2 separate regions of the Homo sapiens genome follow, and region 1 is linked to region 2. Evidence: fine-mapped QTL for protein levels in blood plasma. A gene starts in region 2. The other region holds a variant in brackets. All regions are shown on one strand. Distances are from middle to middle.

Evidence for each region. A credible set is the group of variants that fine-mapping cannot tell apart. PIP is the posterior inclusion probability: the model's chance that the variant is causal. The UK Biobank Pharma Proteomics Project read protein levels with antibody pairs (Olink). The fine-mapping took linkage between variants from a reference panel, not from the people measured, so its PIPs are less certain.
Region 1: its variant is the best candidate, but not a certain one, in a credible set for the plasma level of the SEZ6L protein (UK Biobank, PIP 0.63).

What each region holds. Positions count from the first base shown.
Region 1 is chr22:26,289,355-26,297,683 of GRCh38, forward strand. It overlaps SEZ6L (seizure related 6 homolog like), which reads left to right. Exons shown (of 17, transcript NM_021115.5): 2 at 3,052-3,792; 3 at 4,938-5,071; 4 at 7,534-7,726. Among named protein-coding and RNA genes, the nearest start is that of SEZ6L-AS1, 47 kb to the left of the region's middle. The variant G/A (reference allele first, on the strand shown) is at 5,219.
Region 2 is chr22:26,165,629-26,173,957 of GRCh38, forward strand. SEZ6L (seizure related 6 homolog like) reads left to right here and starts at 3,834. Exons shown (of 17, transcript NM_021115.5): 1 at 3,834-4,135. The coding sequence starts at 4,042. LOC105372971 (a long non-coding RNA gene) reads right to left here and starts at 3,606. Exons shown (of 6, transcript NR_188586.1): 1 at 3,375-3,606; 2 at 1,153-1,301. RefSeq lists a silencer at 3,857-3,986 and an enhancer at 4,813-5,752.

The DNA of each region.
Region 1 (8,329 bases), 120 kb after region 2:
TTTTGAGGCAGATCCACGTCTGGTCTAATCCAACAAGGTAGATAGAATACCTCCATTATACAAAAGAGGCTGCTGAACCTCAGCAAGGTTCAAGGACTTGCCCAGACTCACTCAGCTCATAACTGTAACAGGCAGGATTTGAACCCTAACTCTGAAGCTTCACTACTCCCCACCTTGGACTAGGAAATCTGCCTGATGCCTGAATGACCTTGACCTGCCCTCATGCCATCCACTCACGCTGCTCCCAGATACCCATTCCTGGCCCAGCATCACTGGCGGCCTGGAAGGAACACTGGCTGGTAATCAATGTTACACAACAGGAACATTTGTTGATGCCAGTTGCAAACTGTTGCAGTCTATATAGATTAAGCCACCGCCGCCAACTCCATGAAAGTAAATGAGCCTCTCCAACGACTGCTGAAATAAATTTAAATGACAGCACTGGAGGGCCTGGAGACTGTAGCTGAGTGAGTGTCTCCCTGCAGAAAATCGACAAGGACAGCTATCAGTCCGAGGGCCTTTGTCCCCGTGATGTAATTCCTCTCTATCTAGACATCTTCACGGGGATGTTCTGATTGCTCCAGTTTCCTGCCGAGGGGCTGTGATTGCAATGACAAGAGTAAAAACCATGACGGCAGCTGGCATTTGCTAAGCACTCACTACGGGTGAGGCGCTGTCCTAAGTGCTTTGCATACATCAACTCGCTGAATGATGGCAACCCCAGGAAATAGGAAATAATAGCCCCATTTGACAGCTGAGGGAACTGAGGCTTGGAGAGTGAAGTCATTAACCAGCAATTGGCAGAACTGGGTCTTTAAAAAGCAAACAAAGCTGGTTTCCAGCACCATTCTGCCAGACAGCTGCCTGGGCCAGCCCTTCTTTAAAATGACTATTGGGCCGGGCGCGGTGGCTCACGCCTGTAATCCCAGCACTTTGGGAGGCCGAGGCGGGTGGATCACGAGGTCAGGAGATCGAGACCATCCTGGCTAACATGGTGAAACCCTGTCTCTACTAAAAAATACAAAAAATTAGCTGGGCATGGTGGCACGCACCTGTGGTCCCAGCTGCTCAGGAGGCTGAGGCAGGAGAATGGCGTGAACCCGGGAGGCGGAGCTTGCAGTGAGCCGAGATCGCGCCACTGCACTCCAGCCTGGGCGACAGAGTGAGACTCCGTCTCAAAAAAATAAATAAAATAAAATAAAATAAAATGACTAAATGGTTTTACCTTCCAGACAAAAATAAATCGCAAGGATGGGGACCAAGGTGGGAGGATCACTTGATCCCAGGAGTTTGCAACCAGCCATAGTGAGATCCGTCTCAAGAAAAAACAAAATGAATTACAAGAAGTTAGCAAGGTATACAAGGCCCTCCAGGGCCTGGCCCCTGCCTCCCTACCTTACCAGCTTTATCCCCCGTACTCTCCACTTGTGCTCCAAAACCCCTTGCAATTCTTTTGTGCCCACCTCTGCCCAGCCTCCAAGCCTCCATGGGTCTTCACACAGTCCTCTGTTCTGAATCTGCCTCGTGACTCTGAATCCTAAAACATTTCTGTGTCTCCCACAAGGTCACTCTTACATTCCTTCAGTTTAAAATGTACCTCCCCCAACCCTGCTTTTACACTGTTGGTGGGAATGTAAATTAATTCAACCATTGTGGAAGATGGTGCTGAGATTCCTCAAAGATCTGGAACCAGAAATAGCATTTGACTCAGCAATCCCATTACTGGGTCCCATTACATATATACCCAAAGGAATATAAATCATTCTGTTACAAAGATACATGCATGCACATGTTCATTGCTGCACTATTCACAATAGCAAAGACGTGGAATCAACCTAATGCCCATCAATGATAGACTGGATAAAGAAAATGTGGTACATGTACACCATGGAATACTATGCAGCCATAAAGACAAACAAAATCATGTCCTTTGCAGGGACATAGATGGAGCTGGAAGACATTATCCCTAGCAAACTAAGGCAGGAACAGAAAACCAAACACCACATGTTCTCACTTATAAGTGGGAGTTGAACAATGAGAACACATGGACACAGGGAGGGGAGTAACACACACTGGGGCCTGTTGCGGGGTGGAGTTGGGGGAGGGGAGAGCATTAGGAAAAATAGGTAATGCATGCTGGGCTTAATACCTAGCGTGGGTTGATAGGTGCAGCAAACCACCATGGCACATGTTTACCTACATAACAAACCTGCACATCCTGCACATAGGCCCCAGAACTTAAAATTAAAATTTAAATTTAAAAAAACTCTCCTCCCCCATCCCCCAAGCCCAGCCAGAGCACACAGCTTAGAAAAGAGAGTGTGGCCTGGTGTCCATCCCCACTCATCCTCTTAGCTGCATGTCTTTGTACAGGGAACAATCTGCCCAACTGTACATGGCATGCCTGTCCTGCAGACGGGGTTAGGGCCCGTCCTCTCTGCTCTCTTAGCACACAAGCTTTTCTCTTTCCAAGCATTCATCATATCAAATATGATTGTGTCTACTTTCCCATCCCCCTTCCCAGTACATATACAACCAGGCAGTGAGGCCCCTGTGCTTTTTGTTTCTATACTCCTAATGCTTAGCTCAGTCCTGGCATGATCAAGCCCAAGTCTTCAGGAAAAGGAAGGAAGGAAGGAAGGAAGGAAGGAAGGAAGGAAGGAAGGAAGGAAGGAAGGAAGGATGGATGGAAGGAAAGAAGGAAGGAAATGAAGGAAGAAAATGAAGGAGGAAGGAAGAAAGAAAAAAATGGAAGGGGAAAGGAAGGAGGGAGGGAGGAAAGAAAGAAAGAAAGGAAGGAAGGAAGGAAGGAGGAAGGAAAGAAGGAAGGAGGGAGGGTGGGAGGAAAAGAAGGAAGAAAAGAGAAAGAGGGAGAGAGGGAAGGAGGAGAAAAAAGAAAGGAAGGGAGGGAGGGAGAAAGGAGAAGTTGGTTTAGAGGCCAGCCGGACGAGCTTTGGGCACCGCCCTTAGGAGGGCCACCCTCAGAGTCTGACAGCAGGTGAAGGTCCTAAATCTCCCCAAACTAACTGGTGTCTTTTCTCCTCTTCCAAGATGCTCTTCCCGAGGGAGATGCTAGCCCTTTGGGTCCTTACCTCCTGCCCTCAGGAGCCCCGGAGAGAGGCAGTCCTGGCAAAGAGCACCCTGAAGAGAGAGTGGTAACAGCGCCCCCCAGTTCCTCACAGTCGGCGGAAGTGCTGGGCGAGCTGGTGCTGGATGGGACCGCACCCTCTGCACATCACGACATCCCAGCCCTGTCACCGCTGCTTCCAGAGGAGGCCCGCCCCAAGCACGCCTTGCCCCCCAAGAAGAAACTGCCTTCGCTCAAGCAGGTGAACTCTGCCAGGAAGCAGCTGAGGCCCAAGGCCACCTCCGCAGCCACTGTCCAAAGGGCAGGGTCCCAGCCAGCGTCCCAGGGCCTAGATCTCCTCTCCTCCTCCACGGAGAAGCCTGGCCCACCGGGGGACCCGGACCCCATCGTGGCCTCCGAGGAGGCATCAGAAGTGCCCCTTTGGCTGGACCGAAAGGAGAGTGCGGTCCCTACAACACCCGCACCCCTGCAAATCTCCCCCTTCACTTCGCAGCCCTATGTGGCCCACACACTCCCCCAGAGGCCAGAACCCGGGGAGCCTGGGCCTGACATGGCCCAGGAGGCCCCCCAGGAGGACACCAGCCCCATGGCCCTGATGGACAAAGGTGAGAATGAGCTGACTGGGTCAGCCTCAGAGGAGAGCCAGGAGACCACTACCTCCACCATTATCACCACCACGGTCATCACCACCGAGCAGGCACCAGGTATGCAGCCCCCAACTCCTGAAGCCATCCTGAAACAGCCATGAGGCACTCACTATGTTCAGGGCATGTGGGTAGAGGAATCTCAAGAAGCCCCGGCCCCACCATCAGTTACCGTCCATTGAGCACTGACTATGAGCTTCGCCCTGTGGCTCAGAATTAATAGCCTCATTTCATTTGTTTGTTGTTTTGGGGGGTTGTTTTAGCAAAGGGGTCTTGATCTTTCGCCCAGGCTGGAGTGCCATGGCACGATCATAGCTCACTGCAGCCTCAAACTCCTGTGCTCAAGTGATCCTCTTGCCTCAGCCTCTTGAGTAGCTGGGACTACAAGCATGCACTATGATGTCCAGCTAATTTTTTTGTTTTTTGTAGAAAGGGGGTCTTGCTTATTGTCCAGGCTGGGGAACTCCTGGGCTCAAGCAATCCTCCCACCTCAGCCTCCCAAAGCACTGGGATTACAGGCATGAGCCAGGACACTCAGCCAACATCCCCATTTTAAAGATGAGACAACTGAAACCCTGAGACCCCCAAGCAACCTGCCAAAGGTCACACAGCTAATGAGCAAGATTCAAAACCTTTTCATCTTGGAACGGAATTCTTCATTTAACCTGCTTCAAAGCCACTAGCCTTTTCAAAGCACATTTGCTTTTAGCATTACATGTATTTTCTAGACTTGATAAAATGCTCTTCTGTGTTCCAGTCTTCTCTACCATCTTTAAAATGGGAGAAGGACCCCCAATTGTCAAGCATACATGGATTTTGGACAAGTGCAATGTGGCCACCCTTCAAAGCACGTGAGCTCTGGGTCCAAATCCTGCTTGCTGTTTGAGCTCGGCCCCTCTCTGAGCTTTTGTTTACTTCCCTCTAAACTGGGGATGAAATATTATCAGTCCCTATGAGAATAAGTGGGGTCACCCCTGTTGACTAGCTAAAATGGTGCCTAGCAGGATATAGTAAGTGATCATTCTGTGTCAATTATTGCTATTTTTATTATCATGTCAATTCTGGAGCTGAGGAATTAACAGCAGAAGGACAGATGGGAACAGCAAAATGCAGGTTCCCCTAAAGCCCCCATTCCACCCCACAGCCCATGGTTGAGCTTACATCCAAGTTGTCTTTGGTGTCCTAATTAAAGTCCTTCCTTCCAGCTCTCTGCAGTGTGAGCTTCTCCAATCCTGAGGGGTACATTGACTCCAGCGACTACCCACTGCTGCCCCTCAACAACTTTCTGGAGTGCACATACAACGTGACAGTCTACACTGGCTATGGGGTGGAGCTCCAGGTAACCCCAGGAGAGTACCTCACAGAGGCTGCCTCGTCTAGCAGGAAGTCTCAGGAGGATTGTCTGAGTCAGGCTTACTGTTATGCTAACTAGTTTGGTTCTGTCTTTGCCCAACCAGGCCAACTTTAGCTGGGTTTTGGCGAATGA[G/A]TAGGAGTTCTTAACTCAATGCTTTGCTAAAATAGCTTGTGGGGATAGAGGGAACATGCTGACAAATTCTGAGGTATTTCCCAGAAGGAAAATCCCTTGATACTCTGCTTATCTCACACACACATACACACACGCATGCACGTGCATAAACACACACACACACACACACACACACACACACACACGGAAGCTCCACCTGATTCATTTGATTCTTTCTTGCTTGCTTGCTTCCTTATTTCTCTTTCTCTTTCTTTCTTGCTTGCTTGCTTGCTTCCTGCTTTCTTGCTTCTTTCTCTTTCTCTTTCTTTCTTTCTTTCTTGCTTGCTTGCTTGCTTCCTGCTTTCTTGCTTCTTTCTCTTTCTCTTTCTTTCTTTCTTTCTTTCTTTCTTGCTTGCTTGCTTGCTTTCCTTCATTTTCTGGTTATTAGGACATTTTATTCTTAAACTTTTGCCCATACAGTAAGAAAGGAAAAGCAGGGTGGCATAATGCTCAAACATCTGGGTTTTAAGTCCTACCTCTTCCAGTTAAAACTGCGTGACTTTGAACAAGGAACTTCACCTCTCTGAGCCTCAGTTTCCCGATCAATAAAATAGGAATAATGTTACTGCTTTGTAAAGTTTGGGGGAGCAGTAAATATGACAATGCAGAGATCATTTGGCCACAGCCCAGCAGAGAGAGAGGGAGGAGAGAGAGAGAAATCATTTGGTCAGAGCCCAGCAGAAATCGCGACCATGCAGTGCATGTTATCCATTATCTTCAGTATGCTAATCACCCTGAATGTGTTCCTTTTTCTCATGGGAAATAAAGAGCCATCAAAAGTTTCTGAGCTGGGGCAGGTGTATGACCTTACCTTAGGAAGGTTTTTTGTTTTTGTTTTTGTTTTACTTGTATAAGAGAGACAAAAGGTAAGCCCCTCAGCAGTAGAACCTGTAGTCTTTGCAGTCCCCAGAGCTTTGCACAAGTGTGTGGCACATTGTAGGTCCTTAATAATTGTTCATGGAATTAAAATAAACTGGAGAAAACCTGCAGTCCAGATTATTATAGTGCTTAAGAACCCTTTCCTCCATGTCATGAAGAGTATTGGACCCAGTATGTGTCCAGTACTGTGTGGAGCCTTTTACCAGGCACAGTAGAGTTCATTCATTGAGCAATTAGAATGCACCAGGCAAAGCTGTTGACACAGGAGAATATGTTGATGTAAAAAACTGATGCAATGCCTGCCCTAAAAGAGAAATACGTAGGATGCCATTTAGTAGGGACTCTAATTGGTGTTTTAGAGGTTGTTGTAGAATCGCAGCAAAGGAACAGGCAAACTCCTTGGCAATCAGGGAAGGTCTCATAGAGGAGGGCAATTTTAATGGGGCTTTGGTGAATGAGTAGGAGTTCATCAAAGAGAAAAGAGGATAAGATATAGGGCCTGAAGGAAGAAGAGCTTGTGGGTAAGGCCTGCCCTGTTTAGAGGAGAGGCAGAGAAACTAAAGTTCCAAGCCCTACTCATAAAAGCGTAAGTCTTCAAATTAGGCATTGAGACCTGACTAAATTCTCCCTTACACACACACGCGCACATACCATTTGTTCAGCCTCCCTGCGTACAACTAAAGTATCTCGCTTCTTTCTTCTCAAATCCCACAGAGTGTAAATGGCAAAGCAAGTGTCTGATTCTTTGAGATAGGGGTTGATTGTCCTGCAGTTGTAGCCACCACTGGGGAGAATAAGAGAATGGGCCAGAGAGTGCCCTAGAAATGAGGCCCCCACCCCTCACTTACCAATTTATGCAGAAAATGGAAGAATATATTCAATCTTTTTTAAATATTTTCTGAGCACTTAATATGTGCCAGGTACTATTCTAGGCACTGGAAACATTGAACAGCATGGAGAAATCCCTAACCTTGCAGAGTATACATTCTGGTAGAATGCTTCTCCCGGCTCCCTGGAGATTGGATCTCAAGCACAAGCTGATCCAACTGCTGCCTCCACTCACCAGCTCCAGGATAATCTATCCCACCCACTAGCATCCAGGGCCTGTGCCAAAGGCCCCTCTTACAGGACACAGCAATGGGGGCCTCACATTGCAAGTCCCTTGCAATGCCTCTGCCTTGCAGTTTGGTTTCACTCTATCCCCTTGGCTTTTGGGGAAATTAGGGGGACCTTGATATTCCCAGGGCTCCTGTGGGCTCGGCATGGGGCCCAGGGGTCCCGTTGACCAGGGGCTAGCAGTACCTGGGCCACTTTTCACTGACTTCTTTGCAACCTTAGAAGGCTCTGTCTCAAACACAACTCAGAGTTCCTCTCTGTCTGCTTCTGCCTGTTCCCAGGTGAAGAGTGTGAACCTGTCCGATGGGGAACTGCTCTCCATCCGCGGGGTGGACGGCCCTACCCTGACCGTCCTGGCCAACCAGACACTCCTGGTGGAGGGGCAGGTAATCCGAAGCCCCACCAACACCATCTCCGTCTACTTCCGGACCTTCCAGGACGACGGCCTTGGGACCTTCCAGCTTCACTACCAGGGTAGGGTCAGGCCAAGGCTGATGAAACATAGGCGTTTGCCTCAGTTTCCCTCTGGAGAAAAGGATTTTAAAACTTTTTGTGCCAGGGACCTCTCTGACAGTTTGGTAAAACCTACAAACCCCTTCTCAGAATAATGTTTTTAAAAGTATAAAATAAAATATATACAATTTTAAAGAAAACGGTATTACTGAGCTGCAGTTATCAAAATACTGTTATAATCTATGATGCCTTAATCTATGTGCTTTTTATTAATTCATTAAACAATGTCTTCTAGTAGTTCTTATAATTGCTGACATTTCAAAGTACTAAGGAGCATAAGAAATAGGTTGAGATATCCATTATGATATGAAAAATATCTGTGGTTTCTCTTGGTGTCAAAGTCACAGGTTCTACTACAATGTTTCAGTTTGTTGCCAGGAAAATAGCACAGCTAAGGTAGAGGTTAATGAAAATAAGCAAGCAGCTTTCCTTCATTCAAGTTCACAGGCCCTGAATTCAATATATAGATCCACTGTGCGTCCACAGACTCCTGATAAAGAGCCTTAACAGGGTACTTCTCTCTTTTCTTCTTCCTCTACTGGTTTTCCTTTTTGTCTGTTCCTG
Region 2 (8,329 bases):
TAGTAAATGCTCAAACAGTATTTGTAGATAGATGGACAGATGGGTGAGTGGGTGGGTGGTTGAGTGGATGGATGGGTAGATGAATGGATGAATGGAAGGGAGGAGGGAAGGAAGAAAAGAAGACAGAAAGGGAGGAAAGAAGGAAGGGTAGGTAGAGGGATAGATAAATTGCTGGATGGATGCATGGACTAGTAAATACATGGACAAATAGGTGGGTGTGTAGATAGGTGGGTAGATGAATAAGGAAACAGAGTCCCAGAGAGACTGGTGACTCACTTAATATCACACAGCATTAGCCTTTAGTCCATCAGTTCATGGGATCTTCTCTATAACCCTAGGAAATAAGTGCCATAATATCCCCTCATCCACGAGGATATTATTATCCATTTATGTCAATCACTCCATGTGATAAGTGTTATTTTTATCCCTACTTCTCAGAAGAGGAAAATAAAGCTCAGAGAGGTTAAGTAACTTGCCCTTGTCATCCTATAAGGAAGAGGCAAGGCTAGGATATAACCCTTTGTCACCACTGTACTAATTTTAACCGCATAAGAGCTGATGCTCTGTTTATCACATGGCAAAATATAAGGTGAATAGAATTGTAGGCACACATCATCTAATCAGCAGAGAAGCTAAAATTATCTCCCCAGGTGGCATTGGGTAGGAGGAAGCTCACCCTGACACCAGAATCTAGGCAGGATGTGCCCTATTAGACAGACCACAACATCACTGCCATGGAAACAGTAAAAGGTAAAAGGTAAACCAAGTGTGTGATATCGAGCAAGTTACTTTGCCTCCCTGGCCCTCAGTTTCCTCATCTGTAAAATGGCTATCAAAATTGTGATTGCAGATTTTCATCTGCAAACTGTTCTAGTCCCTTTCAGAATTCTATTTCTATTATGCTATTTCTTCTTCCAAAAATAGTCTTGATACTGCTCCTAAATAATCACTTTATGTTCCCAACATCACAATCTCAGATAATCAGGTCTGTGTCTCATTTCCTCAAGACTTTTCTCTGTGCCTTGTTTTAGCCAGCAAATGGAATGAGTAAATCACGGTCCATATGTTCAATGGGTTAATGGTTTACAGTGTCACTTCTTCCACATAAGACACCTGCATGCAAGCAATGATCTAGAAGTTCAATGTACTTACCAAAGTGAGTAACCCCATTGATGGACTTTTAGTGATGTGGTCCTTCTGGTAGTGATGAGAGGTTGAAGCTTCAGCAGGTAGCAACCAAATCATAGCACAGAGGCAGCCACCAAATTTCTGGGAAGTAGGCTGTGAAGGTGAAATGGGTTCTGGCTCTGTAGTCAGGGCTGCCCTTGAATCTGCCAAATCCCACCGCTTCCTGACTGAGTGACCTTGGCTGGGTTGGGACCCCCCATAAAAAATCAGATACTTATCTTTCAGATGGCAATAACCACACCTCGTTTTCAGGAAGATTATGAAATTGAAATGAGAGACCATGCTCGGTGTGGGACAGCACCTGGCAAACAGTGGATTCTTTACACAATAGTTTCCTTCTCAGTTGGGTTGTTTGGTTTTTTTCCTGTAAATTTGTTTAAGTTCCTTATAGATGCTGGATATTAGACTTTTGCAGATGCATAGTTTGTAAAATTTTTCTCCCATTCTGTAGGTTGTCTGACATTACTGGGTATATACCCAAAGGAATATAAATTGTTCTATTATAAAGACACATGCCCATGTATGTTCATTGCAGCACTATTCACAAGAGCAAAGACATGGAATCAACCTAAATGCTCATCAATGAATGAGCATATATACGGTACATATACACCATGGAATACTATGCAGTCATAAAAAAGAATGAGATCATGTTCTTTGCAAAAACATGAATGGAGCTGGAGACCATTATCCTTAGCACACTAATGCAGGAACAGAAAACCAAATATCACAAGTTCTCACTTATAGGTGGGAGCTAAATGATGAGAGCACACAGACACATAGAGGGGAACAACACACACAGAGGCCTACCAGAGGGTGGAAGGCAGGAGGAGGGAGAGGATCAGAAAAAAATTACTATTGAGTACCAGGCTTAATACCTGGTTGGTGAAATCATCTGTACAACAAACTCCCATGACACAAGTTTGCACACATAACAAACCTGCACAAGTACCCCTGAACCTAGGAATTAAAAATAGTTTCCTTGCCTCCAAGTATGGAGCTAAACTACCTCTTCGTTTTTCTCTCGCTCGCTTTCTTCCCTTTCCCCTCCTCCTCCATCTTCCTTGCTTCTTTAGGTTTCCATTGAACAAGTCTCACTGAGCACCCGCTGCATGCCTGCATTATACTATACAGAGCCTGAGCGTATAGCCACAAACAGGCAAGGTCATTCCACAGAGAGCTGGCAGCCTCATACAGTAAAGCATGGAGTGCTTCATCTTCTCCAAAGGAGAAATCAGCACTCCTGCATCCCTGCCTCAGCCACCTTCTTTATAAAAGCCAGTTGGGTTTACTGCCAGGAATGGAAACCTCTTGCAGCTGAAGATAGGATTTTATGGGGGGGCTCTCTGTCCCCCAAAGCCTGAGGCAGGTCTGGGCCTATAGTCAGTGGCCTGTAAAAGAGCATTGTTTGAGTGAGTAAATGGGGAAGCTCTGGGTGTGGAGCGTCTTCTGAAACCCTGGGCCAGAGTGCTTCTCCTTCCCTCCTCCATCCAGTGTTCACCTCCCCCACCCATTCTTTCTAGGGACTCCCGGCTCCACCACGCTGCTAAAGACATATTCCTCCCCCTGTTGCTGCCTGCAACCTTCTCTCCATCTGCTCCCTCTGCCTGTTCAGGCTGCAGTGTGTAGATAGTATGGCAAGGTAGGGTAGGGGGAGGAGGACAGCTTCTAAATTGGGTGAGAGGCCTGTAAAGCCTGACCGGTCTGCCAAGGCTACGCAGGGAGAGACAGTCAGTCTCCAGGACTGTGCATAAGCTTGTCCCCACCTAGCTCTCTGCCAATGTCTGTCCCCAAGTATCTGTTTATCTCCCTCATTGATTGTCCCTCACTACCTCTATTTGTGGAGAAAAGACTTTGCTTGAGAATCAGGCCTGGGCAAGAATGCTGCAGAGGTGGGCCTTGTAGTCCTGCTCAGATAGGGAAGCGGGTACAGGAAGAGGCAAGCGGCTGACCTGAGAGGAAGCCTCGCAGCGCTAGTGCCCTGCCGGCAGTGGGGTTATGGGAGACAGGGCTCAGATTAAAAAGTGGAGGTGGATCTTAATTTAGAGTTCGTGATTGGGCTTCAGAGGGGTCCAGACCCCCTCGTGTTAGATGCACGATTTTGTGGCTATGTGTAGTGTTCTAGTAGATTCACAGCTGTCACCAGATCCACAGAGTTACAGACTTTCTAGGTTATGGGGACTCACTTTGGAAGCAGTGAGGCCCTGGCGGGGAAGCAGGCTGGCTGGATCCCAGAGGGCTCTGGAAAGAACTGGAACTGGGATGTATCTGGAAGGCTGGGCAGGCAATGGAAAGCTCCGGGCTGCTCATAAGCTCGGTTTCCAGGGCTCCATCTCACCGTCTGGAAAATGGTCCGGGTGCTCTCCAGCCTGGCCTGGCCAGGCAGAGCTGCTGGGAGCGTCAGCAGGGAGAGAAAACGCTCGGCTCCCAGGACGCAAGGGGAATTGGCGTTAAACTTTGCAGGGCCGACGGGCCGGCGGCCAGAGGAGGCGGCTGGCACCCCCGGCGCCGCCGCGGCCCCTCCAGCTCACTGCCCGCTCGCCCGCCCCCTCCCTCCCTGCACTCGCTCGGCACAGACTCGGCCCCAGCCCCCTCCCTCCTCCCGCTCGCTCCACGCTCGTTCGCTCGCTCGCCGGCTCCTCCTCACTCGCCCGCCCGCGCCCGGCGCAGCTCGGCCAGAGCGACCGCGGGGCTGAGCGCGCGTCCGCCCAGGGGGCTCCGGAAGCTGCCCCGGCCCGCGGCCTCCTCCCTCGCTCCCGCTTCCCCTTTCTCGCTCACCGCCGCCCTCCTTCCCCAGCTCCCTCGCCGTCCGCCCGCCCCACAGCCAGCGGCTCCGCGCCCCCTGCAGCCACGATGCCCGCGGCCCGGCCGCCCGCCGCGGGACTCCGCGGGATCTCGCTGTTCCTCGCTCTGCTCCTGGGGAGCCCGGCGGCAGCGCTGGAGCGAGGTAAGCGCCCCGAGGGGCGGGGCGGGCAGGGGGCAAAGTTGCCGGGAGAGCGGGGCAGCCAGGGGTCGGGGCTGACCAGGGCGACTCAGGCACCACCCGCCGGGATGGGAAGCGGTGGTGGCTGTCCAAAATCGGGGCTAGGAACCGCACGTCCCCTTGGCCCGGGCTGATGGGAGTGTGGAGGCGGGGATGTGTTGAAGGACTCGGGCGCTTCCCTGCTTCGGCTGCGGGCTCCCTTTCGGTCTTCCCCGGCTGCGGGGCTGATTCTCCTTTGCAGCCAAAGAGGTTCTCCTTGGAGTGGGGTCGCCTCCAAACCCCAAATTCCCGGCGCTTCTCTGCAACCGCACCCGGGGCTAGGTGCCAGATAATTATCTTCCTCTCCGGGAGAGGACAGGAAGGGGGGTGAGAAGCTGACCCACCCTGCAACTGAGGACTAGACTCAAACAGTGCATTTGCCGCTCCCCCCGACACCACAGAAACCCTTGACTCCTTTGGTTCAGGCTACCCCGAGGGTCTGTGTTCCTGGATCGATCTCAGCCAAGCGTCAGGATACCGGACTTGGGTGTGGCTTTCGCTAGAGGCCGGTGGAGGGGGCTGAGGGCTCTGAGAACTTGGTAGGGGAGGGAGAAGAGATGTTAGTTAGCAGTTGGGAACCTGAACGGGCTCCCCTCTACTCTCTCCCCTACTGCCTAGCATCTCTGATCACTGTTAGGAATGGGGGGTGAGGGGTGTTAGTTTCATCTACCACGTGTTTGTTGAAGGGGAAGAGGGGCCCAAATTTAGCAGAGAATGACAGCTCCTCTTTCTCAGACCTGGAACCATACCCTCTCTCCACCCCGGTAAGGTACCCCAGGAAAAGTTATGGGTGGGGGAGAGGGCCAGATAGAGAGAGGGGTGCAACGCCTAACTCACCCAAAGCTAACCCTCAGAGCTTCGGGGGTTTTCTCAGGCACCTAGGAGACCCGAAAATCAATGGGAGGGTTAGTTGGCCACAGGACCCGGCCTTCTTGCAAGGTCCCAGAAATGCGCTCCTCACGTGTAAAAAAGCAGACAGCTGCAGGGTCTGCCCAGGCTGAAGACAGAGGGAGCGCAGGCACTATGCTTATCTGGGGCTCCGCCTCTGTCATTTGCACCGTCTTGACTCGGAGTTGGGGGACAGGCGGTGTTCTTCTCCGGGGAGTTCTGGACCCCCAGCGCGCGCACCTGCTTTCAGCACCAAAGGCCCTGGACAGCTCTCAGCTCCATGGGCCCTGGCTCTGGGTCCCTTTCCCTTCAACCCTTCCCGGTGGCCTGGAGTGCCCCCCTCAGCATAAATCAGGCATTTTATCCCCCATCTCCCCGTCTTTTTAAATGTAGAGCCCAGAGTGCAGAGCAAAGGAAATTGTTCATCACCTTTTGTTTAACAAAGCATATCATTGAAGAACCCCCACCCCTTTTTTATGGGGCAATAATGTCCACAATTTACACCAGGTCTGGACAGTTTCTCTGGGAAAGATAGGGAAAGAGATTTGGTTTAAACAAATCGTTTCCACCACAGCATGGCCTTTCTTAATTAGCTGTCTCTTTCTAACAATGGCTTGGTGGCCTTGAACTGAGTCCAGCTCTCCCTCCCCCACCCCCTTTTGAATCTGTGTTGTGACTAACACACATATAAAAAGAACCTGAATCTACCCAGCAGCTTACTGGATTTTCTAAAGCAGTTCTACCTCTGAGAACTCCACTCTCCAATACACCACCTTGCAGGGAAAAAAAAATTGTCTTAATGGCACGTATTGAATTGTCATCTAAGACAAGGATTTCCTATTCTGTTTCCTTCACGGGCTGCAAACACATTGTAAGAGCAGGGGGAGACATGTGTGTGTTTTAATTTTTAAGACATTTCATACTATTTTTCCAACTGCTCAACACCATGGCTAGCCAGCATATTTTTTAAATTGACTTCAGGTCACCACCAAATTAAAGTCAATTGATGTGCTACTTCAGAAAGCTCATTAATAAGTGTGTGGTTCTGACTCTGAGTCATAAGGAGGGAGTGATACTGGCCAATGAGCATTGCCGAGTCTGATGGTGCATTTGGAGACAATTGACCTTCCACAATAAATTCTATTTTTAATGTAGAGCCCAACATCCACTAATGTCAGATGGAGAACCATTCACCTAACTCGTTGTTGCGAACTAGTTCTTCTGCTTGCGGTGAAGTGAGGGGATTTGTAAATACTCAAAAGGGACTTGTTGCTACATTCTGATGCAGGTCACGTGGTTCTCTGGGCCATTTCGCTGTAAGGCATGAATAAGTATAAAGTATAACTTGTTTTTGAAGAGCCTCCTTATTGTCTCAGATATGCACATGGGGAATAATTGTAACTACATGCAAAGACTGCAAAGCCTAAGAATAATTTCTTTTCTTTTTCTCTTGAATTAATAAGGCAAATTCAGTATTGCTCAATAAGGCTCAAATTTGCTGCTTCCCCAGTCTCTAACGTGTGTTGTGGTTAGATTCACTTAAAGACTATTTTCATTATGGATTGGCATTATTTTCCATAGAGTTTTGCCCGTTCCTGCCAGGGGCCACCGTATCTAAGCTTGAGGGATTCATCTTGTGTTCATATGGCTCAGTTAGGTATTAAGAAAATAATGTTACATTCCTTTCCTTCCCCTTCCAGGGCAAAAGGATATTTTCTGATCAGAGTGGCTTGTTTTCTTATTTTTGCTTACAAGTCCATTCCTGCAAGCTGTTCAAATGAGCTCGATTTACTGGCCCTCCTATTCTGTCCAGAGACAATTTATCCAATATACCTACTGTGCAGACCTCCACTAGGGGCGCTCCAAGATCTAGCTGGCGACTAAGGGCAGAAGAGAGGGGAATTCTGACCTGTGAACAACCAGGTGTGTGCAACACCAAAGGTCAGCAGAATGGAGCTCCTCTCAGCCTGGAGGCCTTGCTATCATCTCTCCCCTCCCTCTTTCTGATTACTACATTTTATTACTGTTTCTCAGAGAAAAATTATTGGTCACCCTTGACACACGCAGTGAAAAAGAGAAAGAAAAGGTAAAAAGAAGCCCGGAGAATGCTCCAAGGAAAATGTCAATCCAACTGCCCTTTTTGTATTTTTGCAGTTTTCTTCATGAAGCCAAATTGCAAAACATCCAAGAGGCTGTGGAAAGGCTGTTCTGGGGAGTTTGACTGAACTGGGCACTGGAATTAGATTTATAAAGTCCAGGAAAAGAAGTGCAGCTCCATAATTAGAGTGACCTGGGTCCAGAGGCCAGCTCCATTGTCTATTAACACATGGCCTTCAGCAGAACTATTTTATCTGAACTCCCATTTCACCATCTGAGGAATGGGGGCAGGGCAAGGAGGACTGATGATACCAGCCTGGAAGGATGGCTGCAGGGATTACATAATGCATGTAAAAGCAGCTGGCACGGAGTAGGTGCTCAAGTAATGTTTATTTCTTTCTTTCCCTGCTTTCCAAAGGGCAAACTGCTCCTATTAGTAGACACCAAGAAAACAAATCTCTGCGATTGGCATGAAGCAGATGTTGGTGTAAATATTGGGATAATTCAGGCTAAAGTAGAAAGGGGTTGAAGGGCATAGTGAGTAACTCCAGTTACCTGTATTCTCACCTTTGGCAGATGAGAATTTGACCTTGCCTGGTGCAGACACCCTTCCCTTCCAAACTCTCATGCTGTTTCTTTTTGAACCTAAATATTACCATCAGGAATCAGAGTTCATGGTACTGGAGATCGAGCGGATGCAGGAGAGCAGGTTAATGGTTGGGAAGAAGACATAAGAAGCAAGTCTTCTGGAAAAAGATATTTGCCCTTTCATTCATTCATTTGAATTTACCGAGCACTTCCTATGTGTCTTAGTTCAACCTGCTATAACAAAAATGCCTTAGATAGGGTGGCTTAAACAACAGAAATTTATTTCTCACATTTCTGGAGGCTGGGAAGTCCAAGCTCAGGGCGCCAACAGACTCAGTATCTGGTGAGTGTCTGTCATCTCTCTTTCTGCTTTGCAGACAGCCACTTTCTAGCTGAATTCTCATATGGCCAAGAGGGACAGAGAGCCCGGGTCTCCTCATCTTAGAAATGAACTAATCTTTATCATGGGGGCCCTATCTTTATGATTTCATTTTAACCTAATTAATTCCCAAAGGCTCCACCTCCAAATGTCATTACATTGGTGAT